Linked DNA regions of Homo sapiens: regions 1, 2, 4, 5 and 6 are each linked to region 3. The links come from fine-mapping of genetic effects on gene expression. A gene starts in region 3. Each other region holds a variant in brackets. All regions are shown on one strand. Distances are between the middles of the regions.

Evidence for each region. PIP is the estimated chance that this variant, and not a neighbour inherited with it, causes the effect.
Region 1: its variant is the best candidate, but not a certain one, in a credible set for the expression of CCDC149 in whole blood (INTERVAL, PIP 0.72).
Region 2: its variant is the best candidate, but not a certain one, in a credible set for the expression of CCDC149 in pancreas (GTEx, PIP 0.59).
Region 4: its variant is the best candidate, but not a certain one, in a credible set for the expression of CCDC149 in whole blood (TOPMed, PIP 0.89).
Region 5: its variant is the best candidate, but not a certain one, in a credible set for the expression of CCDC149 in whole blood (TOPMed, PIP 0.75).
Region 6: its variant is the best candidate, but not a certain one, in a credible set for the expression of CCDC149 in nasal epithelium (TOPMed, PIP 0.86).

What each region holds. Positions count from the first base shown.
Region 1 is chr4:25,015,545-25,019,633 of GRCh38, reverse strand. It overlaps LGI2 (leucine rich repeat LGI family member 2), which reads left to right. Exons shown (of 8, transcript NM_018176.4): 5 at 396-467; 6 at 1,476-1,645. The region is part of intron 4 of LOC102723675 (a long non-coding RNA gene); the gene reads right to left. Among named protein-coding and RNA genes, the nearest start is that of LGI2, 13 kb to the left of the region's middle. The variant C/T (reference allele first, on the strand shown) is at 2,191.
Region 2 is chr4:24,805,681-24,809,769 of GRCh38, reverse strand. It overlaps CCDC149 (coiled-coil domain containing 149), which reads left to right. Exons shown (of 13, transcript NM_001395273.1): 13 at 951-4,089. The coding sequence ends at 1,381. Among named protein-coding and RNA genes, the nearest start is that of SOD3, 12 kb to the right of the region's middle. RefSeq lists an enhancer at 447-1,027. The variant A/G (reference allele first, on the strand shown) is at 2,012.
Region 3 is chr4:24,910,797-24,914,885 of GRCh38, reverse strand. CCDC149 (coiled-coil domain containing 149) reads left to right here and starts at 1,844. Exons shown (of 13, transcript NM_001395273.1): 1 at 1,844-2,069. The coding sequence starts at 2,022.
Region 4 is chr4:24,932,627-24,936,715 of GRCh38, reverse strand. It overlaps a transcript of CCDC149 not described here. Among named protein-coding and RNA genes, the nearest start is that of CCDC149, 22 kb to the right of the region's middle. The variant A/T (reference allele first, on the strand shown) is at 2,439.
Region 5 is chr4:24,970,032-24,974,120 of GRCh38, reverse strand. It overlaps a transcript of CCDC149 not described here. Among named protein-coding and RNA genes, the nearest start is that of LGI2, 59 kb to the left of the region's middle. The variant T/C (reference allele first, on the strand shown) is at 2,301.
Region 6 is chr4:24,944,902-24,948,990 of GRCh38, reverse strand. It overlaps a transcript of CCDC149 not described here. Among named protein-coding and RNA genes, the nearest start is that of CCDC149, 34 kb to the right of the region's middle. The variant C/A (reference allele first, on the strand shown) is at 2,458.

The DNA.
Region 1 (4,089 bases), 100 kb before region 3:
GGCCAGTGTGGCTAGATCAGAGATCCACTGAGTAGTTGGAAACCGATGAGATGGGGTCTCCTAGGTAAGCAAGAGTGGAGGTAGCCAGGCAATAAAGGGTCTTGCATGCCACCGAAGGAACTTTGGCTTTGATTCCAGGAAACATGGGAAGCCATCTGAGGTTGAGCAAATATACATAAAGAGCTTAAAAAGTGCTTTTTGTAAAAAAAAAAAGAAAGAAAATGTATATTATAATCCAGCATCTCTTATGTTATATTTGCATAACTAAGCTCATTTCTCTATCTCAGTATTGATGACCAAAGCCGTGCTATAAGTCAACAGCTTTATCTGAAGGGAGTTGAGAGTGACAGGGCATGAGATAATAATCACATTGCAATGTGACTTTCTTGTTCTAGTTCTTTGGCCAATAACCACATAAAAGCACTACCAAGGGATGTCTTCAGTGATTTAGACTCTCTGATTGAACTGTAAGTAATGAAATTTAGTTTATGTGTGTTTGTCATTGTGCCCCAGTTAATCATGTCTTTCAATCCCCTCTCGCCTTTCTTTTATGCATTTCTTTTATGCTGTGGTTAAAAATCTATAACAAAGTAGTGCATCCTGGGAAATAGCATACAGTTTGTATTGTGTTGGATTTTGCCATTTTATACTTAGCACCATGAGGCCAATGGTAAATCACACTTGCTGGGTGGGAGATCACCTCCCTGAGATGGCACGTTCACCTGCTTTATCTTCTATCATTGCTTCTTACTGGATGTATTTTTTTTTTTTTTAGATGTAGTCTTGCTCTGTTGCCCAGGCTAGAGTGAAATGGTATGATCTCCACTCATTACAACCTCTGCGTCCTGGGTTCAAGTGATTCTCCTGCCTCAGCCTCCTGAGTAGCTGGGACTACAGGCGCACACCACTACCCCCAGCTAATTTTTGTATTTTTAGTAGAGACGGGGTTTCACCATGTTGGCCAGGCTAGTCTCGAACTCCTAACCTCAGGTGATCTGCCTACCTTGGCCTCCCAAAGTGCTAGAATTACAGGCATGAGCCACCGTGCCTGGCCTACTGGACGTAGTTTTAACAAGAGCTTGAAGTTTCAATTGTGTTTGTGAAAACTGTCTTCCTACAATATCCTCTTTGTTTATGAGAACCTCTGTTGGGGGCTGCTCTTCTATCATATGTCTCCCATTTCTGGCATGGCGTGGAGACGAGAGCATTTGGAGAGATGATATGTCCTCGCTGAGAGCTCTCTGGACATTATACAGTTATTCAGTTAAATTCCCAGGTGCTGAGGAGTATTAAATAAAGTCAATGATAGATACAAGAAACAGGAGATATTAATTATAAAAGTTTTTAAACTCCATTTTTAGGGGGTTTTAAATATATCAGGATGTTAATAATTCTGGAGTTTCGTGTTACTACCAAAACATGTCAGACACATCTATTTCTCTTTGTATGTGTTTGTGTTTTATTTTGATTTTTAGAGATTTGAGGGGTAATAAATTTGAATGTGACTGCAAAGCCAAGTGGCTATACCTGTGGTTGAAGATGACAAATTCCACCGTTTCTGATGTGCTGTGTATTGGTCCACCAGAGTATCAGGAAAAGAAGCTAAATGACGTGACCAGCTTTGACTATGAATGCACAACTACAGGTATTCAGAGCCTATCTCATCAGACACGGATATTTAGAATAATCTCTTTGTCTTTCTTTTACACTGTCAACAGAGACTGGGGAAAAGTGAATATAGAACTGTTTATCAAAATTGTTTTAGAGAAATTTTAAACATTCTAAAGAAATGAATCGATGTGGTAAGGAAAATATCTCAAAAGTTTGGGAGAATTTTTGTTAACTGCCCTGGCTTTATTTTTGCTTCTTTACGAAATTCAAATTTCTGTAAGTGTTTCATTTTCTTAAGTCAAAGTATAAACTTGTGGGTTTGGCAGGAGAACATTTTCAAATCAATCTAGGTTTCATAGAAGGCCACTGCAGGGAGGCTTAGATTACTCGGTTGAGACTGTTCTTTTGCTTTAGGAAGATGTTCATTGGACATTTAACTAACAAACATCAGAATTTTTTTTTTTTTTTTTTTTTTTTTTTTGAGGCAGAGTCTTACTCTGTCGCCCAGGCTGGAGTGTAGTGGCGTGATCTCAACTCACTGCAATCTCCACCTCCTGGGTTCAAGCGATTCTCCTGCCT[C/T]AGCCTCCTGAGCAGCTGACATTACAGGTGTGCACCACCACACCCGGCTAATTTTTGTATTTTTAGTAGAGACGGGGTTTCACCATGTTGGCCAGGATGGTCTCGATCTCCTGATCTCATCATCCGCCCACCTTGGCCTCCCAAAGTGCTGGGATTACAGGTATGAACCACTGCGCCTGGCCCAAACACCAGACTTTTAAACCCACAAATGACTTTCAGAGTCCCATGTAAGAAGAGATAACTAGGTAAATTATAACCAATGGCAAAATAGAAAATAAAAGTTAACAACTAGTTATCAAAAGGAAACAGCTCATATCGAGGGAAAAATGTAAAGAAAGCTTGATTTTGTTTTCCAGGGCCTGCCACAAACTTTCAGTTTATACATTTTTCAGGTTATAAGATAAAACCAAAATACTAACTGCCTCCACTGTCACAACATGGGGCCAAAGGTATTGGTGAGTATCTCCATTGGAAAGGCTTAGGTGGGGTTTCTACAGCTTCTAAAGCCAGAGAGAGGAGGATCAGGCCGCTGTATGAAACCTGCTTACCCAATTTATAAAAATAAACATTCAGGCTGAGAGCTGATATCTACAAAGCCTCAAGTCATGTCAGGAGAAGCAGCAGGAATGAGAAACAGAAAATAGTTACAGAAACTCAAAAGACACCAAAACTCCAAGAACAAAATATCATATTTAGGCCAGTCCCCGCTACCACCTTCCAACAAATAAACAAAAACCCAGAAAGTAAAGATCATTTCTAGGTATCTTTGTTTGTAAATAAGGGACCCTGCAAGTTCTATTCTTTTCTGATAGACAACCTGCAATCTCACAGAAATGACTTTTCCTTTCATCATCAAATAGGGGCTTACTCAGCTGTGTAATTGACAGGTGCCCCACAGTCAGCTGAGGCCACTACGAGGTTAGTTTATTGTATTTTAGGGCCAGGACAATAAATCAGAGGTCGTAGTCGATAACATTTGCACCAAAAGGTGGCATTCAAGACTATTTGGCGTTAAATGCTAAATTTAATTAAATTGAATAAACCAAAGCTAAACTAAAGCTCACTGAGACTTCTCACTACCTTTTCTCCATTTTCTCTGCAGAGGTCTCGAAACACCAAGGTGAAATTTGCAGATTTTCCCTTGTTCTCTTCACACCTGGCCATAGCGTGGAGAAACTTTGCTAATCTCTGATGGAAGTAATGGGCTATAGGGCCGTGGGAATAGGAAATAATTTCTACAAGAAAACATATTTTCTGAGCTTAGGGCCCTGAGGATAGTTATAAAAGTGATCCAGGCTCTGAGAATTGTTATTGGAATGGTGGTAGCTTGGAACTGAGGTAACCTGTCCTCATCCCAACATGGAGTAGCAAGAGGCCTTAACACATTTTAGAGCCTTCTCTGTCTCATGCAGTATTTGTCTTCATGAACAAGCTTCCTACTAAACTTTAGAAAGTCAGCGCTAGGCTTTCTGGTGAGAGGGAGATGATAATTCTGGCTTTGTGCTATGGTTTTATCCCTTTAAGACTCACAAACAGAGATGAGGCTCTTGCTGACAGTTTCTTCCATCGGGAAAAAAATGGTACAACAAAGTTGTGATCCACCCCCAAACATAGGCCCCGCTGTGTAAGAACTAGGTCAACAAATTTTGAGTGTTCGGGGTTCATGTCTTCTGTTCAGATCAAACCTTAGCCTCTGTTGCTTCGTTAAAAGCTAGATGGGGAGTAGGGGCGTGGGGTCGGGGGAACAAATGAGGATGGAGGGAAAATGGAAAGCCAAAGGTCGAGAGTTCATGGTACAGTGATCGTATTCTTGCCAAAGGTTTAGAAAGAAGCACATTTTCTGAATATGATTGTTTTCCTTTTCAACTCAGATTATCGGAAAAGGGGTGAGTTTTCTCC
Region 2 (4,089 bases), 110 kb after region 3:
AAGTGTTCCTGGGGGCCCCTCATTCCTGGTCCAGGACATGTGTCCAGGCTAAACCCAGTCCCACTGTGGCTCTGTCATACCTTTCTTCACTGTTTAGCCTGAGGGCTGGGAAGAGATTGGCTTCTGGGGAAACTCAGTGTCTGTTATTGAATGCACATGCCCGGGTACTAAGAGCTGGCTCCGCCATGCTGCTCCCCACTCATGCAGAGCAAGCATTGCTGGTTAGGTCCAGAAGGGGCATCAGAGAGTCCTATCCTGATCACAAAGCAAGTGAGTAGGGAAATGAGGGCTGGATGTCAGCACTTTAAGGGCTCCCCCTTCTCTCCCATGTCCTTCCTGTTGCAGTGCTAGAATTTCCATCCTATAGAGAAGGGGTTTAGGGACAACAACTCAACAGGGGAGGGAGCTTGAAGGTGTATTTGCATATAATTTATTTGATATTGAGGAACACTAGGTGTCCGCATTAAGGAATGAGATGCTGATGGAGAATCGTGGAGAAGGGGTGGCACTAAATCCTTCCCGAACTATCCTTCTTCTTCCCACCCTCAATGCAGCCGGAACCTTTTTTCATTACTAACAAGCCCTGGCTCTCAGCTGCAGAACCAACAAAACCTTTGTCCTCAATTTAAATATTTAATGGGCACAAGGAGCGGCCATTAGAGAATGGAACAGAAGCTAACCAGGTGCCTGGAAAGGATGGATTATGACATGGCCCAAGTGCTCCCTTGCCCTCTGTTAATAATGCAGGAATCACTAGAATGCATGCTCGCTGGTTTCACCTGGGTCCTGTGTTCCCCTTTGGCTCCATTGCCCTGCACAGGGAGCCAAAAAAGTCTTGCTCCTTTTTCAGAGGCCCTGTGCTGGTAGGCTGGGCAGGAGGTTGGCAGAAGAGGGGCGGTGAGGGCTGATTTGCTGCCAGAGGTTTAATGTTGTCCTCGTTCTGTTTTCAGGGGAGGCTCAGAAGCAAGAAGAAGATGAAAGTTGTGCCGCTGCTGAGGCGTTGACAGCGCCTGAGGATGCTGGGAGGCCCGCTGTCAACTCCCCAGCAAATCAGAGCCGCGGGAACCAATGCAAGCTCTTTCATCCTTCATTACCCCAGTTACCTTCTGAGGAAGAAGTAAACAGCCTTGGGAGGGAAATAATTAAACTGACAAAGGAACAGGCAGCTGCAGAACTGGAAGAGGTCAGAAGAGAGAGTCCCATAGAAGGTCAGAGGAGTGAGACGGGGCCAGCCCCGCCAGGCCTGGCCATCCAGGGGGAGCTCCCTAAATCTCACCTGGACTCCTTCGAGGCCAGCCGGCCAGCAGCCAAAGCTTCCACACCGGAAGACGGCAAAGGGATCCCAGAGGGCGGAGGCATGAGGAGCACCGTGAAAACCTGAAGGGGAGAGGGATCTGACACAATGACACATTGAAAGCCCCAGAGAGGGTCAAGAATGAAGCATCGGAATGGTGCGCTCACGTCGCCTTCTCCTGAAATACCTCCGAGTCTGCAAGTGAGAAAACGCACTGATCCTGTTGCAAACTGTGAATATTCTGATGATGCCAGTACAGTTTGATTTATTAAATGTAGGTCCTCAAGCTTCTCAGTGTCATCTCTTTTCTGCCAGAGAGTGCTACTGTGAACAGGGCCAGGCCCAGGAATCGTGTCCACCATATGGCTGGTTTTCAGCATCCGTCTTTCTGTCAGCTTTTGTTTTATCAGAGATAAGATGTTTTTGTATTAGCATTTAATGTTGTCAATCAAAATTATGGGAAGAGCTAGAAACTGATGGGGTTTTTAATCAGGTCCCCATCTTGGTCAAGGTTAGGCAGCTGGAGAGGAAGGTATAATTGAGCAAAACGTGTCCAGAGGACCCATGGCTGCACCCCATCAAGTCAGGGCCCAGGAGGACTGCCTGGCATGGGTGTGCTTGGCATTGTGCCCACAGCACTGCTGTCGTGGTACAGACTGGCAGTTGGAAGGGGCCTTAAGCCGGCTGAGAAGTTTGGGCTTCTGGGTTGAAATCCAC[A/G]GCCCCGGTTGAGGCCTGTGTGCTGAGTGCCAGAGCTGGAGTTTTCTAGCTTGTAAATCTGGAGAATTAACTGATCTGAAGTGACTGGGAGGGGTGAGCATAAAAGCCGGGGAACAGGACTCCCAGTGGTGGTCTGGTTTTTTTTGTGAGATGAGATGAGAGCTACCACCTGGAAATGCTCATTCTCTGCATTCAGCCTGTCTCACATACAGGATTGTATGGCCATTTCAGGTTTGGGAAAGATCTACCTGCTGGGAGCCAGTCTAGTTTCCTGCACCACCTGGAACTTCCAAACCCTTCACTCCTTCAACAGAATGTTGAGGCTGCCTCATTTGTGCCACCAAGTACGGGAATCTTAAAGACAGAAACAGAGCTCATGACCTTTTATGGGAAAGAGAGAGGAAAACAAAACAACTTCACAACAGCATGGCAAGGGGGGATGTGGAACCAAGGACATGATACAGGGATGGGAAAGGAGGGCATGCTCAATTCTAGCTGGTTCTTTCCTTTCAGATAAAAATGAGCTTTTCTAGTTGGCATCCGGCACTGCAGAAAACTAAAAGTCATCCAGCCATAGCTTTTTCCTTCCCTGGAAAGCCTGAGACTAGATCCCAAAGCTCAGAATGCCTCTGAGAACCAGAATCACTCCTTTGAGAGGCGCTCCTTGCAGGAAAAAGAGAGGCTCCCAGAGTGGTAGCCTCTCAGTGAAAATGCATCCTAAAAATTCAATGTTTATACCAGGCTCATGACACTAAGATGTGACATCTGGACACGAGGGGTCAGCCACGTGGATACATCCCTCCCAGATTGCATCTCCAGGAATCACTCTGCTAGCAGAATGGGCGCCCCATCCCTTACTATGCTGCTCCTCCTCAAAGTGCAGCCCAGAAGGACCCAGGCCTTTGATGCACATTGGGTGGGTCTCCCACTACTTTAGTTGAAATGGGAGCATGCTGGAGTCGGCGTTCTGTTGCTTCTGGTGAGAAGGACATCCCATTGACCCCTGGCCACCAGGTCCAGTATTCCATCCTTCCTTCTGTCCCAGCCTATCGCCCTCCCCACCAGGCCCACCCCCACAACTTCTCCTCAAGGGAGGTTGCTCCCGCAGCTGGAGGGCTTGCACAGACCAGCAGTCACAGAAATCATTCTTCCTGCTGTACTGGGCCTTAACTGCCTGCAAATGTCCAGCACTACTGCATAGGATGCCAGAGCCACCGAAGGAAAACACAGCCAAGTTTAATAATAATAAAAGGAAAAATCTCAGCCTGCAGAACTCTGGTTTTGACCCACCATCGGCCAGATGCACATCTTCAGGGCCTGTTGAGCACCTTCTGAAAAGCAGGGCTCGTAATAGACTCCAGCACATTCCATCAGAGTCAGGAAAACTGCAGTGAGTCCCAGAGAATCTAGGGTGCAGGGCAGGGAGCAGGAGTCATAAGGAGTGATAACCTAAACTGTGTGTAGTCAGCGGGGAGGGTCTTATGTTATCAGGTGAAATGAGAGCCAGTAAGTTAGTTGATCCTGTCACAGATATAACCCTGATAACACCCCATAGATACGCGACACGTGTGTCCTGCCCCTGCTTTCCCCATCCAACATGGTTCTTCTGTTCCACAGACATTAAAGGGGCTTTCTGCAATTACTTACAGCTGTCTTTTGTCTTTTTTAGGATCAAAGTTTAAGGTTGTGGCATTCTGTCCCCTACTTCACTAGATAACCCTGCATCAGTCATGGTCCTCTCAGCTTCAAGCCACACTTAACAGAAACTTAAGCGGTAGGGAAATGAATTATGTTGTATAACAGGAACTTCGAAAGTAAGGCATTCCAGGGCTATACATTCAAGAAAGTTGTCAAGGTTCTAGGTTTCCATCTTCCTGCTCTTCCTGCTGTGTCAGCTGCTTTCTCATGATAACGAGGTGGCTGCAACAGCTCCAGATAACACCTGTTCAAAGGCAGAAGGAAGTTTCTTCCCACATACGTGTGTGTGTGTGTTTCAAGAGCGAGAAACCCAGTTCCTATCACATTTTATTGGTCAGAATGATCACCTGGGGCTTGTGGTCGCATGAGACCTTGTCACA
Region 3 (4,089 bases):
CTGGCCAGCCAGTCCGTTGTAAAATTTTCTTTAGATTATGATGCCAGGGACTATTGCTTTTTGAAGGGCTGCCAGGGAGAGTTCAAGCCATTCAGGCCCTTCATCAGTTGTGTCACCATCCATTTCAGTTACCTGTTGATACCTAGCAAATCGCCCTAAAACTTAGTGGCTTAAACTACAACTACTTATTTAGTATGTGATGCTGTGAGTCAGCTAGTTGAGCAAGGCTCAGCTGGATGGTTCTTCGGCTGGTCTCAGCTGGGCTCACTCATGTGCTTGTCATCAGCTGTGCGGGTGGGGGTGGGGGGGCGTGGAGGGGGCGGCAGGCAATGGCCTCACTCACACATCTGGTGATGGTTGACTGTTGGTTGGGAATCCTACCTTAACCAGCAAGCTATTCGGAGCTTATTTACATGGTTTCCAAGAGCAGAAGCAAGAGTTAAATCCTAATGCACAATTGCTTTAAAAGCCTTTTTTTTTCTTTTTTTTTTTTTTTTTTTCTGGTAACACATGTACAAACGTTGCTTTGGTCAAAGCAAGTTACATGACTGAGCACAGAGTGAAAGAGACAGTGGCAGGGCAAGGGACAAAGAAGGGGAATGATTGCTGCCATTTTGCAAACAGTCTATCATGTGCAAAACAAGGCCAAGAACAAACTTTCAAGGTGATACTTCATTCTTAGATTTCCAAGATGCTAGAGCCAGAAGTCCTAGTTGAGTCCCTGTTTCTCCACGTTTCAGGCCTCAGTTTCCCCATCTAATAAATGAGGATAACATCCATTTCACAGGGTTGATCCAGGATCAACAGGGGCTAAAAATTATAAATAAATGTTGGTAATGATGCTTCCACAACTGTACAATGGGTTCACAACTTCTCAACCTACTTGCTCATCTCCACACACAGCGTTTCTGCGAGTACAGAGGGCTCACTATTGATAGTGGTCCAAGAGGGGATTTTAGGTGTCACAGGAACAGCACCTTGAATACGATTGACTTATGTGTGTGATTCACCTTCCCTCTGTCATTCTCTTTCAGTCTTTCCTCTTAGGAGAAGTCTCAGCTTAATGCCAATGCCTTCCCCTTTTGCTAATTATTTTATTTTTTGTAAAGAGGGGGTGTGTCACTTTGTGGCCGAGGCTGCTCTTGAACTCCTGTCCTCAAGGGATCCTCCTGCCTCAGCCTCCCAAGGTGCTGGGATTACAGGCATGAGCCATGGAATGCCACCAGTGCCAATTTGTCTTTGACACCTCTCTCAACCCATGCTAACCATCTCCCTCAGAGTTTTTGGCCCTATTTAGAATTGAATAATGCTTTATTTTCAATTTTTACATTTGCTTTCTATTAATGACAAATGATACGTTAAAAAATATATAAGCAAGCACTAATAGTTTAAAAAACAATGCTAAGTATATAATAAAACGTGGTTCATTCATTCTTGCGTTCAACAAATATTCGTCCAATAAATATATGTAGAGCATCTCCTATGGGCCAGGATCTTGCCAAAGGCACATCTGCGAACCAAGGAAACCCCTGCCCTCGGGGAGCTTGCATTCTAGGCGTGGGAGTCGTGATGGTGGTCGGAGAAGGACTGGATTTGGGGATTTGCTTCTTGCGGGGGACACAGGCCTGCCCGTGGGGCCCGCCTCCCGCGCGGAGAGCGCTGAGGGGTCCGGAGTGACCTGTAGGCTGAGACCCTGGCTTCCCCTTGCCTAGAGGCCGGGCAGGAGGCGCGGAGCCCGAGGTCGCGGGGCTGAGGGCGCGGGGCGGGCCCGGCGGGGCTCGGCTGCGGCCCGGGCTGTGTCTGCGGCCCCGGCGGCCGCGCCCCTCCTCCCTTTCCCTCCGGCGGAGGCTGACGTGGAGTCAACAGCGCTGGCGGCCGCGAGAGGCGGCGGCGCAGCGGCTCGGAGGCGCCGGGCCCTCTCGGGGCCGCGCGGGGCCCGGGCGGCGGCGGCGACGCGACGTCGCGAGGAGGAGGAGGCGGCGGGGGTCCAGGAGGCCGGCCAGCGCATGGAGGAGGAGGCCATGAACGGCGACCGGACTGAGAGCGACTGGCAGGGGCTGGTGAGCGAGGTGAGGCCGCGGCGCCGGCCAGGCGGGATGGGCCGGGCCGAGCGGCCGCCAGCCCCGGGCCCGCGCCCCCAGAGAGGCCGAGCTGGGAGGGACGAGAGGGGGGCGCGCACTCCAAGTGGCCGCGGCTGCCGCACCCGCGCGACCCCGCCAGGTGCGCCGCTCCTCCTGCACTTTCGGGTCTGCGCGGGCGCCACTTTCTTCCGCGCCATCTGGTGTCAGCCTTTGGGGAGGGGCCTTCCCCCCAAGGCAGGGGTTGGCCCTGGATTGGAGGCTGAAGCCCTGGGATCCGGGAGCAGAAGGTGCCAAGCCCCACCTGCCTGCCCGCTCGCCACTGTTGTGGAGCCAAACAATTGGACGCCTGGGACTGAAACGGGAAGGTGGTGCCATGGGGGAGAATCCGAGCCCTGGGGTGGAACCTGGGCCAGGTGGAATTACCTGCGGCGGTGGTTCGAGTTGGGGGAGTTCGGGGGTCCGCTGCAGCCGTTCACTCATTCACTTGCTCAATTCAATCAACACGTGTTTACTGCAGGCCTACCATGTGTAAGGTGGGGAGGGGCATTTATCGAAAAAGTGAAACACAGGTGCAGAAGTGATTCGATTTGTGGAAGCACAGAACACCGTGTCCCCCTGCCCTGCGACTCTTTTGTCATAAACATACCCTGGGGGTCCACTTTCAGGATCCTATGCTGTTTGCTCTTCAGTTCCCCCTAAGAGTTTGCCGGCCTGCCGGGAGAAGCTGCCGGCCTCTCCAGGTGAGAGGGAATGCGGATTTCTCCCTCTCACCTGGAGGCAACCAGGTAAGTTGCCCTGGTTTGCCACCATTTGTGGGGGCAATTCCTGGTGTTACTTACCCATGCCGGGGAATTTCTCCCTTCTGAGAACCAAGCTCCAGCCAAGGCCAACTTGGGGCTTCCTTTTCTTTAATCCTGTGCACACAATGCAGAGTGTATCGGTTTGCTCTTTTCCTTTCCTTGTGGGTTATGGGAAGGGAAACCCTCTACTCCCTCACTCCTTTCATCGTTTTCTGGGTCTCCAGGTCAGTCTGATAATAGTGCTTCATGCCCAGTGTGTGCAGAGCGTTGTGTTTCTGAAGAGGAATGACATGCGGTAGCTCCTGCCCTAGTTTAGTTTGCTCAGCATTGGTCTAGTAGTTGAAAGCTCTCCTAACTGTCTGGTGTTATGATCCATTGTATTGCAGCCTGGCTCCATCTTCTCAAACTGTCAGGCTTTATGTTAAGGGGCAGATCCTCTGGGGACCTTGTTTCTGGTCCCATCAAGAATCATACTTAGTAGTCAAGGAGGCTGGAGGTAGTTCTCCTTAGAAGTCCAGTGTTAGGCCCTTAAATAGCAGCAGAATCTTCACTACTCCAACAATTGCATATCAGGTGCCTGTTAGGAGTCAGTACATTGTGAGGTGCTTGGGATTCAGTGGTGAATAAGACAAAGAACTCCCCTACCCTCAAAGAACTCCTGGGGGTTTCATGATATAGTCTGGGAGGAAGGTCATACCGTAGACAGTGAGAGTGAACTAAAGGATGGAAAGGCTTCAAGTGCTAAATGGCATGGGGTGCCCCTCAGTTGGCTGGGCTTAACCTTCACCTTGCCCTGACCACATTATTGTAACAATAGGCTTCCTCACTAGGCCGTGTGCTTTGTTTGGTTCTTTATTCCAGGGCCTATACACAGAGCTCTGTATGCAGCAGGTGCTCGAAAAATGCTTGTTGAATAAGTCAGTGAATCCTGAAGTAGGTCCTTCAGGAGTTTTCCTGCCCATCCCAGCAGAGTTTCTCCAGAGTAATACCTCCTTAACTTCACAAACATGAGGTGGGCACGTAGCCAGGGGCCATGGGGGAGGTGAAAATGGGTCTAACTTACTTCCCACCTTAATAATAACTAATGACTATTTTTTGAGTGCATCCTTCATATTAAGCATTTTACATGGCCTCATATTCACAATGACATAAGGTAGGAATTCTTTCTTATTTTACAGATAAGGAAACAGTGGCTCAGACAGGCTAAG
Region 4 (4,089 bases), 22 kb before region 3:
TGCCCTAATGGGGGACTGTGGAGGTTGATCAATGGGAACAAAGAGATAGACAGGAGGGACACATTTTGGTGTCCTGTTATATACTAGAGTAACTATAGAAAATAACAATGTACTATATATTTCAAGAAAGCGGAAAGAGGAGATTTTGAATGTTGTTACCACAAAGAAATTATAAATATTTAAAGTGATAGATATGGTAACGACCTTGATTTGATCATGATACTATATATACATGCATTGAAACATTACATTATATCCCATAAACATGGACAATTATGTCAATTACACATTTAAAAAATAAATTTAAAATATTTAAAGAAAATAAATCCTGATTTTCCCTAGAACATATATTTGATGATATATATATAATATAATGATTGATATATTTCAATCATTATAAAAATATGTGGCAATATTGCCCATCTTAAAAAGAAAACCTCAAAAAGCAAAACTGAAAACCTCCCTTATTCATACCCCCCACTGACCCTACTGACCAATTTCTCCCCTGCCTTTTTAAGCGAAAGTCTTGGAAAGAGTTGTGTATATTAGCTGCCTCTACTTTCTCATCAGTTCTTTTTTCCCTACTACTCCACTGAACTTGCTCTTGTCAAGGTTGCCCAAGACTTCTGGAACCAATGAGCACTTCTCATCTGAGTTGACTAATATCAGCAGCTTGGGTGAGCATTGCCTCTTTCTTGACACATCCACTTTCCATGGCCTCCTGGACATCATTCTCTTTCTTGTTACTTCTGCTTACTCACTGACCACCTCTTTTTTGTCTCTTTGCTGGTCTCTCCTATGCCTGATCTCTAAAAATTGAGAGTTCTAGGTTCCGTTCAGTTTCATGGTTTTAAATACCAGCTATATATAGATGACTCGCAAATATATAACTTTGGTTCTCCCTCTCCCCTAAACTTTAGACTCATATATTCATTGTGTCTAGTCTTTTCTGACTGCTATAACAAAATACCATTTACTGGGTGATTTATAAGCAACAGAAATTTATTTCTCACAGTTCTGGGGACTGGAAATCCACAGGCAATGCCCTGCAGATTTGGTGTCTGGTAAGGGCTTGCTCTCTGGTTCATAGATGGTGCCTTCACACTCGGTCCTCACGTGATGGAAGGGGCAAGGGAGCTTTCTGGGGTCTCTTTTATAAGGGCACGAATCCCACTCATGAGGGTTCTGCTGTCATGACCTAATAATGTCCCAAAGTCCTCACCTCCTTATACCTTCATATTGGGGGTTAGGTTTTAACATAAATTTAAGGGAGACACAAGCATTCAGATCGCAGTATACTGCCGAACTAAAATCTCTATTTTGATTTCTAATAGTCCCCTTGAATTATTTAAAATATAAATCTTTACTTTTACTACCCCTTACCCCAAATTTGCTCTTCTTGTGTCTTTTCCATTCCAGAAAATGGTACCATGATTAACACGGTTGTCTAGTCCTAAGATATTGAAGTAAGTTTGAATTATGCGCTTTCTTTCACTTCTACATCCAATCTATCTGCAAGCATTGCTGTGTCTAACTTAAAAATACTTCCAGAATCTGATAAATTCTTGCATCTCCGTTGCTACTTCTCTGGTCTAAGCCACCATCATCTCTCATCAGGATGATTGATGGAGCCTGCTATCTGGTCTCCCTCATCCCACCTATCCTCCTTCTTTCCTCTAATCCATTTTCTACATGGAAGCCAGTGGGATCCTTCGGATATATAAGCCATTTCATGTTACTCTTCTATGAGAGGTTCTCATCACATTTGTAATAAAATATAAAGATCTGATCATGACCTTCAAGTCTCATGATAATCTGACTACCTCTCTGTCTCCATCAACTGTTTACTTATCGTATTCTCAGTCGACTTTCTTCAGCCACATCCCATATCTTTGTTCTCTTTGACCTTCTTATTAATCCTCAAAGACACTAAGTGTTTCTATCTCAAGGCCTTTGTCCTCATGGTTCCCTCTGTCTAGAGTGTGCATCTAGACCATCTTTGCTGTGGCTCAACCACTCACTTCATTCAGGTGCCTGTTCAAATGTCATTTCCTGAGATTACAATATCTAACATGGTCCACTACTCCCAGTCACTCTTTGTAATAGATAACTAATTCTGCCATTAGAAAGTGGAGTCCATATCTCCACCCTTGAGTCTGGGCCAGTTTTGTGGCCTGCTTTGACCAAGAGAATGCAGAAGAGGTAGCAGTGTGCCAATCTGTATTCTGTTTTCATGTTGCTAATACCTACCCAAGACTGAGTAATTTGTAAAGAAAAATAGATTTAATTAACTTACAGTTCCACATGGCTGGGGAGGCCTCACAACACTGGTGGAAAGCAAAGGAGGAGCAAAGGCATCTCACATGGCAGCAGGCAAGAGACAGAAGGAGAGCCAAGCAAAAGGGGAAACCCTTTATAAAACTATCACATTTCATGAG[A/T]CTTATTCACTACCATGAGAACAGTATGGGGGAAACAACCCCCATGGTTCAATTACCTCCCACTGGGTCTCTCCCACAACATGTGGGAATTATAGGAGCTACAATTCAAGATGAGGTTTGGGTGGGGACACAGCCAAATGATATCACAGTCCTAGGATTAGCCTTTAAGAGGCTTGGCACATTCCACTTTGGTCTTCTTTGGAAAGGCCAGCTGTCATGCTGCAAAGAAGATCAAGCTAGACTACTGAATGGTGAGAATGACACCATGGAGGGTGACAGCATACACATGAAGGAGCCCTGAGGCATCAAACATATGAATAACTTATTGGACCTTTCAGCATCGTTGGCAACAGAATGCCAACAAGTGGTTGACTCCAACTGGTGTCACATGGAGCAGAAGAACCATCCAGCTGAGCCCTCCCCAAATTTCTAACCCACAATCCTGAAAAATTAATGTCATTGTTCAAAGCCATTACATTTTGGGATAGTTTGTTACATGGCAATTGATAACTGAAATATTCTCTAACTCTTCATTCTGTTTATTTTTCTTCATAGCAATTATCTCAATAAGAAATTACACAATTACTCATTTATTTGTCTACAGCTTATTATCTGTCTCTCCCTCCAGAATATGAACTCTAGGAGGAAAAGGACTTTGTCTTGTTCACCACAGTATTCCCAGTGCTTGGAACAATGCCTGGCCTATTTCAGGACTTAATAAATATTTCTTGAATAAAATAAATACTAAGAACCCTAACATAAGCCTTAACTTTCCACAAAAAATTATACTCATCTTCATAGACACATTTTTTTCTTTAATCTCAACATCCAATTACTTTTGCCTTTTAAATCAAAGTTCTCTATCAGTTTGCTAGAAAAACTTACCAGGCATTTGTTTTTTTAAATCCAGAAAATACTTTGGTTCAAGATCTGCAGTACATTTTAAGATGACTTGGGCGTTATTACCATTCACTGAATAATCCTGTGGGTAGGTTAATGACAAAGTACCACTTAGTATCCTATCTTCCCAGGATAGATTTCTAGTGCCACCCAGCCCCTCCCATTTAAGTACATACAAGTCCTCACTTTTAGGATAGCACATGCAAGCAGGGGCTGATAGTTCCTTATTAATTCCTGAGATCCCACCAATTTTTCCATCAGGGCAACACAAGAACAGCCCCCTCTTTGTTAGTCATAGAAGAAGATCATTTTCTGTTTTTTTTCCTGCCTGACTCACTGGCCCTCACCATGCATAAGACATCAGACACTGCCACATTGGGAATGCCTTTCTCTGAAATAGGTTTGCTGTGATTTCTTTCATGCCTGGTTGGAACACAGAGTCATAATTAGAACAAGGCTCCTCTCCCAGATCATTGCTCTGATGGCTCTAAATTGGTTCGCACAGCTCCATTTTCTTTCTAAATGAATAGGACCTTTGCTTTTCTGATTGTGGACATGTGAGATTGATCACCAGGTCCCTGACACTTCCCTCTGACTAATGTTTTCCCTGGTGTTTTCAGGTATTCTGCCCTATTCATTTCACTTTGGAAGCCAGTGCTGGGTTGCAATTTAATTTTTCTAAATTTAGTCTGTAGAAGGCTCATGACCAATGGGAGGGGATTACAGCTTACCAGGAATCCACATTTAAAGA
Region 5 (4,089 bases), 59 kb before region 3:
GTTAGACAGTGGGCCGCACACAGGCGCTCTCCTTTGCAGGATTTGTTCCAGGCGTTTGTTTATTTGCGCACCACTTTATTTGCCACTAAAAATACTCTTCCGAAGCAGAGGCGCAACTGACCGTGACTCTTGCGAAACAGCCGAGTGCACAAGCACTGAAGGGCTCCCTCTCGGGCTTCCCGGGCTCGGGGACTGCAAGGGGAACAGAGCAAGGCCTACTTGCCTTAAGGCAGGCAGCTCTGTTCACTTCCATAACCCCAAACCCAATCCCTCCATGAGGCACTTGCTGGTTAAGAAGCAGCTCTCAGCCTGCCTGGTGGACTGTGGATAACGTTGCACAGAACTCCTCAGTTGTAACCAACAAAACTCAGTTCAGACCGGGTTAATCATACACTCACACACACGTATTGTCTCAATGAGCAAAAATTCCAGAGACTGCTGTAGGCACAGCTGGATCCAGTACCGATGGATGGCTGGAATCTGGTCTAACTCTGGCCTTTTTCAGTTCTTTTTATCCTCTGGGTTGGCCTCACTCTCAAGCATGTTTTCTCCTCACAATGTCAAGATAGCTGCCAGTAGCCTCAGGCATGCTTAATCACAGCTCCAAGTGCAAACAAAAGGGGACTTCTTTTTCTCCAGACTTTTTTTAAATGCACTTTATTGAGGTACAGTTGATATACAGTAAACTCCATATACTTAAAGTGTACAATTGGATAAGTTTTGACATATGTGTACACCCATGGGACCACCACCATGTCGACACAAAGAGTCAGACTCCATAAAATTTTTAAACAGGTTTATTCTGAGCCAAATATGAGTGACTAAGGCCTGAGGCACAGTCCCAAGAGGTGCTGAGAATATGTGCCCAAGGTGGTTGGGTTACAGCTTGGTTTTTATATGTGTTAGGGAGACATAAGACTTCAGTCAATACATGTGAGGTATATATTGGTTTGGTCTGAAAAGGTGGGACAACTTGAAGGGGAGGGTTACAGGTCATAGGGGGATTCCAAGATCTTCTGATTGGCAATTGATTAAAAGAATTAAGTTATTATCTAAAGACCTGGAATCAATAGAAGAGTGTCTAGGTCAAGATGAGGGGTTGTGGAAACCAAGGTTCTTGTTACATAGATGAAGCTTCATGGGTGCCCACCCTTACAGGCAAAAGATGGTGAATGTTTCCTGCTCAAACCCTTAAAAAGTGCTAGACCCTCAGTTAGTCCCTTCAGGATTGGGAGGGTCTGGAAGGGGAAATATCTAGTTAACAGAGATTCGTTACAGATGCAATTCCACCACAAAAACAAAGTTGCAGGCTATTTCAAAGTGTGACAAATAAACATACTTTGGGGTAAAATGTTTTGATTTCCTTCTTTATCTGTCATGTGATGTTATGCCAGGGTCAGATTGGAAAGTCAGTCAGTTAGACAGGTTTAAATAAAATGTCTCTGATGAGATTTTACAGTTTGTAGTGTGTGACTCCCCAGGCCTCTTAGGAATTTGGGCAAGAGAGGAAAAAAGGCTGGGCGTGGTGGCTCGTGTCTGTAATTCTAGCATTTGGGAGGCCGAGGGGAGCGGCTTGCTTTAGCTCAGGGGTTTGAGACTAGACTGGGCAACACGGAAAAACCCCATCTCTACAAAAAATGCAAAAATTATCTGGGCGTGGTAGTGCGTGCCTGTAGTCCCAGCTACTTGGGAGGCTGAGGTGGGAGGATGGCTTGAGCAAGGGAGGTTGAGGCTGCAGTGAGCTGAGATGGCACCACTGCACTCCAGCCTGGGTGACAGAGAGCCTTGTCTCAAAAAAGAAAAGAAAAGAAAAGAAAAGAAAAGAAAAGAAAAAGGTCAGAATTTAGTCCTCAACCACAATCAACACAGCAAACAAGTTCATGATAGCCAGGGTTTTCCTGTGTCCCTTTGTCATCCTTCCCTCTGTCTGTGAAAATAGTCAAACTCTGTGGAATGTTTGAAGAGATTTATTCTGAGTGAAAATGAGTGACCAGTCCTCCATAGATTCTGAGAATGTGCCCAAGGTGGTTGGGCCACAACTTGGTTTTATATATTTTAGGGAGACATAAGGGACCGATTGATATGTGTAAGATGTACCTTGGTTGGTTCTGGAAAGGTGGGACAACTGGAAGTGAGAGCTTCCAAGTCATGAAGATTTAAAGATTTTTTGATCAGCAACTGGTTGACTTATTTTCAATAGAAAGAAATGTCTGGATTATGATAAGGGGTTGTGGAGACCAAGGTTTTATTATGCAGATGAAGCCTCTAGGTAGTATGTTTCAAAGATAATAGATTGTAAA[T/C]GTTTCTTATCAGACTTAAAGAGTCTGTTCTATCAGTAGTTCTAAAAGAGAGGATGGTATAATGAGGCATATCTGGCCCCCTCTTCCCATCATGGGCTGAACTAGTTTGTTTTTCAGGTTAACTTTAGAATGTCCTTGCCAAGAGGAAGGGAGTTGGTGGGTGAGTGGCAGATAGCTGGGAAAACATTCGAGGAATCATAGACAGCTTCTACATGGCTGTACTCTCTCCCTGGGCAGGAGCGAGCCGAACGTACAGCATTAGCAGGGTAATTATACCTTTTGCAGACAATAGTGGCTCCAAGCCAAGCACAAGCTCATGTGGGTGACCACCTAACGTGCCTCATGTGGCAAGGTTGCATAATGTGCAGGGTTGTGCACCTGCACTCCTAACCTGCTGAATCATGCTGCACTGGAAGCCTGCCTTGGCTTACTCCTGACTAAAGTGCAGTCATCTCCCTCATACTCCACCTCCCAGGCCGAGGGCGTCCCCCGGGCAAGGACACAAGCCCATAGGGCAGAGCCCTGAATTCATAACCCACAACAACAACACAGAGAGCAACAACTCACTACTAGGATCCCAGCTATGCTACTTATGACTATTAGGACCCAGCATAGGCCAGAGCCTAGAGATGCCCACCAACTCTGTAGGGGGTCGTCAGTAAGGGTCTTGACCACCTTAATCTCCCATGAGACCCTTTGCAGGGCTGCTGTTATATTCTGCCAATTGTCAGGGATAAAGGTACAACATTGTGTTCCTAAAAGGGCACAGGTGCCTCCTTGGGCAGCAGTTATTATGTCAAAGGCCATTCAGTTTTGCAACACCACCTTTCTCATCTGATCAACCTCATCCATAACAGGATGAGGGCCACTCGGGTGTAATTCAGAGCCCTGGTGGTGTGCTCTGCAAGAGCAGTAACTTGTGCTTCTACAGTTTTGACACCCACTCCAGGGATAGTCATTGCCAAGGGGTAGGACCACCAGGGGGCTCATTGCACTCACAAAACCCAAGAGAGTAGTGCCTCCCAGGTATGTGGGAGTCTGGGCAACATGGGGAGAACAGTGCCAGGTACATGAGGCCACCCCCAGGTACAACATCCAGTCCAGTCCACTGGTTGGTAAGGCCACCCTGTGTCACTACAGACCCATAGACTGCCAGGGGGCACAAAATCCATTAGGGCGTGATGTTGGTGGGGCTTCTTGTTCCACCACCTTGTCACTATACCTTTGGTGTAGTGACATGTGTTATGTTCACACAAGCCATGACGGGTACCCACTCCTCAGTGGTGTTACCCCAGTGTTTCTCAGTGCACCATGATGCCTGGGCTGGAGGTACTACACGTCCCCCCAGTAGCCAGCCCCACCCATCATAAATGCTACAGGCTAGCCAGGGGGTGGGTGCACCTTGGGTCTTGAGGTGTCCTTTGTCCAAAATTTGCTGCATTGCGTTCCAGGCATCAGCCACAGGTGTCCAAGTCTCCAGCCATGTGCAGTTGTCTGCAGATGCTGAATGTATGTGCCGAGGCCAGCCATCCACAGCTGTTGCTGGAAAGGTGGTGCAGATCCAACAGCTGGAAACACCGGTCATCTCAGTGTAGGTGTGGGCTGAGTCCACAATGCAGTTGGAGCATGTTAACCTATGACGGAAATGACTGAGTAGGCACAGATACTGATGGAGGTAAAGCACGTCCCTCAGGCAAAATATAGGCTAACCTTTCATCCCTGGATAACAGTGCAGCCACCAAGGGTTTTTGCCATGGGCAAAACCACACCTCAGCTCCCCACGGTTCCT
Region 6 (4,089 bases), 34 kb before region 3:
CACGTGGCTGGGGAGGCCTCAAAATCATGGCGGAAGATGAACGAAGATCAGAGGTACATCTTACATAGTGGATGGCAAAGAGAGAGTTTGTGCAGGGAAATTCCCCTTTATAAAACCATCAGATCTCATGAGATTTATTCACTATCACAAGAACAGCACAAGAAAGACCCACCCTCATTATTCAATTACCTCCCACCAGGTCCCTCCCATAATATGTGGGAATTATGGGAACTACAATTCAAGATTTGGGTGGGGACACAGCCAAACCATATCACGGATGATTCTGGAACCCAGAGAGAGGAAAAGAGAGATATGGTGGAAGGAGGACACTGGGCAGGAGCACTGCCACTGCCAACCAGTGGCCTGGGAGGGAGGGAGTTGTAGGTGTCAACATCCTGCCCTCTATCTTATTTCATCCTCCAATCTTCTATGGGCACCTCCTGCTGGCTAAACCTGAGTGGAAGCTGGCCGGCAAGGGAGTTTAATAATGCAGTCCTCAGCATTGTGGAGCAAGAGCAGGGTGAGAATGCTGGAGCATGGGTCTGCAGAGGCAAAGTGAAAATCCAGCAGAGTAGGATGAATCCATGAGCAAAAAGCCTCCTACTATTAAAAAGACAAAGATAACCAACATTGTGAAAGCCGTTATTCTGCATCAACCTTTTTATTTCACAAGGGTGGAGATTGAGGTAGAAAACAAGGACTCAAGTTGATCCATTTGTAAACCTAGAACCCTTGTCACCTGATGGCAAATCCCTAATTTGTCCTCGAGAACATCCTTTGAACTTTCTCTCTTGGATGTACTTCAGAGTCACACGCTTCTCTAAGGACAGCTATTTGCAACCACTTTCTGATTTTTCAGGATAGGTTTCTTAAATCACCTGCCGTAGCCCACTGCCTGCCACTCCTACGCCTGTGAATTTACAGTTCCAGTTAAAGTAACGTCCATGAACAGGGAGGGAACGAAGGCTCTCCCTATCCCTTCAAGCCCCCAAATTGATTTGGCACTCGAAGTCACTGTTATATTTTATACTGAGTCTTCTGAATCAGTTCATTGAATTTTAGCTGTAGCTATATAAAATCCTCTCCAGTGAAATTATTTGGCCATATTGCGGATGGCTCTGCCATAATCCATCAATGCCACTAACTATCTGCAATAAAAAAAAAAATCCTCCTTCTTTTTTCATTGTAATGAATTTTCTAAACTCAGATTGAATCTTGGAAGGTAATTTACTGGCTTTTTAATTTTTAAAAGGTAGCATTTTGTATTTTTTATATGAAGCCCACAAGATGAGTGGTGGCAAATTTTGAATATTTCCTATTCTGAGAAATGTTGTTGAGGATGAGGTGATTCAGGCAACCCTGGCTTGGATTTCATGGAAGAGGAGGATAGACGTGGGGAGGACTTCATGGGAGTCCAGTTTGACATAGACATCTGTGACTTTTTGTAGGTTAGGAGGGAGGAGTTCTCTACATGTATTAGTCCGTTCTCACACTGCAAATAAAGACATACCTGAGACTGGGTAATTTATAAAGAAAAGAGGTTTAATTGACTCACAGTTCAGCATGGCTGGGGAAGCCTCAGGAAACCTACAGTCATGGCAGAAGGGGAAGAAAACATGTCCTTCCTCACATGGCGGCAGCAAGCAAAAAGAGGAAAAGCCCCTTATAAAACCATCAGATCTCATGAGAACTCACTCACTATCATGAGAACAGCATGAGGGTAACCACCCCCATGACTAAATTACCTCTCACCCTGTCCCTCCCATGACATGTGGGGATTATGGGAACAAAAATTTGAGATGAGATTTGGGTGGGGACACAGCCAAACCATATCACTAAGCAAAAAGCAAGGATGAAAATTCAGCTGAGATTCTTTCAATGCATTAGTAAATTAATAAAGGGGGAAAATTAACATAATTTATCCAAAGATTGCAAAAATATTATTACTGTCCTGCACAGGAACCTGTTTTCCTGGGCAGAGAGGAAGCTATTGAAATCGACTTTAGGAAAGCATTGTAAAGTGGCTTGGGTGGAGGAAGCAGATGGCATTACAAAGAGGAAATAATTCACAGTTCGGAGAGGAAAATCTATGAGTACATATGAATATGCGGGCACCACAAGTAATTGTGTATTAAAAACCTAAGTCTTAAACTCTAAAAGTGCATCTGTAGTTAACATAAATAAGATTTTTCAGGCAAATCTTTAGACTAATCACAAAGCTGGCCTTAATATTAACTTGCCCACTAGGATGGCAGAGATGAAGCTCCTACCCACGCTAGGATAAAGTGGTCATATATTCACTGTGGACTCCTTAGACTGCCATTTAACATATATTCCTTTCTCAAAGGAACATCCTTTAGTTAATCAACATTTTATTTTCTCACTAGCTATGCAACTGCGTTTTAACCAATGGAAAGTCAATCAAAAAGATTTTAAAAAATATCTTTACCAAGTACC[C/A]GCCATTTGTTGCAATGTTTGCATTACTTTTATAATTAGGAAAAAAACCAAGATATTTTAATTGAAAAGTGTTATGTTTGAATGATTCAAAAATCAAAGTAAATAAGTTCTCATTCCTCTTTAACCCAGCTAAGTACAGACCACTTCAAGGACACATATGAAGACAAGAGATTTGCAAGCAACAGAAATGGACTCAGTAATTTTACAAAAAGGGATTTATTGGAAGGATACTGGGGACTCACAAAATCTCAAGGAGGCTGGAGAACTGGCCTGAAAGTGGATAGGATTCAGGCTAGGCAATTGAACCATGACACCTGTCCACAGTGATGCCTGGTCACAGCACTGGGAAGAAGAAATGCTGTATGTTTGAGTCTGCGTCTCTTGCTAACAACCTAAAGTCCCAGAAGAGAGAGTGATTGGTCAAGCAAGGGTGGTGTGTCTATCTTTGACTGTTAAGTATGTTTTTCAAGAATACTTATCACCCAAATTCTTCTATTTTTGCCTATGGAGAGGTACTTGGCCTTCTTTCCTTTTTTCCTGGAACAATGGTTCTCAAGCTGTGATGCCCAGACCAACAGCATCAGCATCACTTGATATATTAGTTTGTTAGGGCTGCCAGGCATGGTGGCTCATAGCTGTAATCCTGGCATTTTGGAGGCCCAGGTGGGTGGATCACTTGAGGTCAGGAGTTCAAGACCAGTCTGGCCAACATGGTGAAACCCCATCTCTACTAAAAATACAAAAATTAGCAGGGCGTGGTGGCAGGCCCTTGTAATCCCAGCTACTTGGGAGGCTGAGGCAGGAGAATCGCTTGAACCTGGGAGGCGGAGGTTGCAGTAAGCTGAGATTGCACCACTGAACTCCAGCCTGGCTGATAGAACAAGACTTCAACTAAAAAAAAAAAAAAAAGTTAGGGCATATAACAAATTATCATAAACAGAGTGGCTTAAAACAACAGACATTTACGTTCTCACAGTTCTGGAGTCCAGACGCCTGAAATCAAGGTGTCAGGAGGGCCATGCTCCCTTTGAAGGCTCTGACGGGGACTCCTTTCTTGCCTCTTCCTAGTTCCTAGAGTTGCTAGCAATTCATTGGTTTTCCTTAGCTTAGAGATGCATCGCTCCAATCTCTGCCTCTGTTACCACATACATGGCACCTCCTTATGTGTCTCTGGATCTGTGTGTCTCTTCTCCTCTCTTTATAAGGACATCAGTCATACTGGATTTAGGGCCAGTGTGACCTCATCTTCACCAGTTACATCTGCAAAACCTCTGTTTCCAAATAAGGTCACTTTTGGAGATTCCTGGTGGACATCGATTTGGGTTTGAGGGGGTGGGATGCTATTCAACTCAGTACACCTGGGTAGTGCAAATTCTCAGCCCCCACCCTAGACCTACTGGGTCAACAAGCCTGGGAGTGGAGCCCAGCAAACTGTGATTCAATAAGCCCATTCGGGGATTTGGAACCCTCTAAAGCATGAGGACAAATGTCCTAGAAGGGGCTGCACAGGCATCTTCCAACTTCAGTATTCAGTTCTCATATAAAACATGCAGGTATTTTTCCATTTAAGGAGAAAGGAGGGTTTGTGGGAGTAGGGGCTGGACTCTGAAGCAGAAATGAACCTGCACCTGA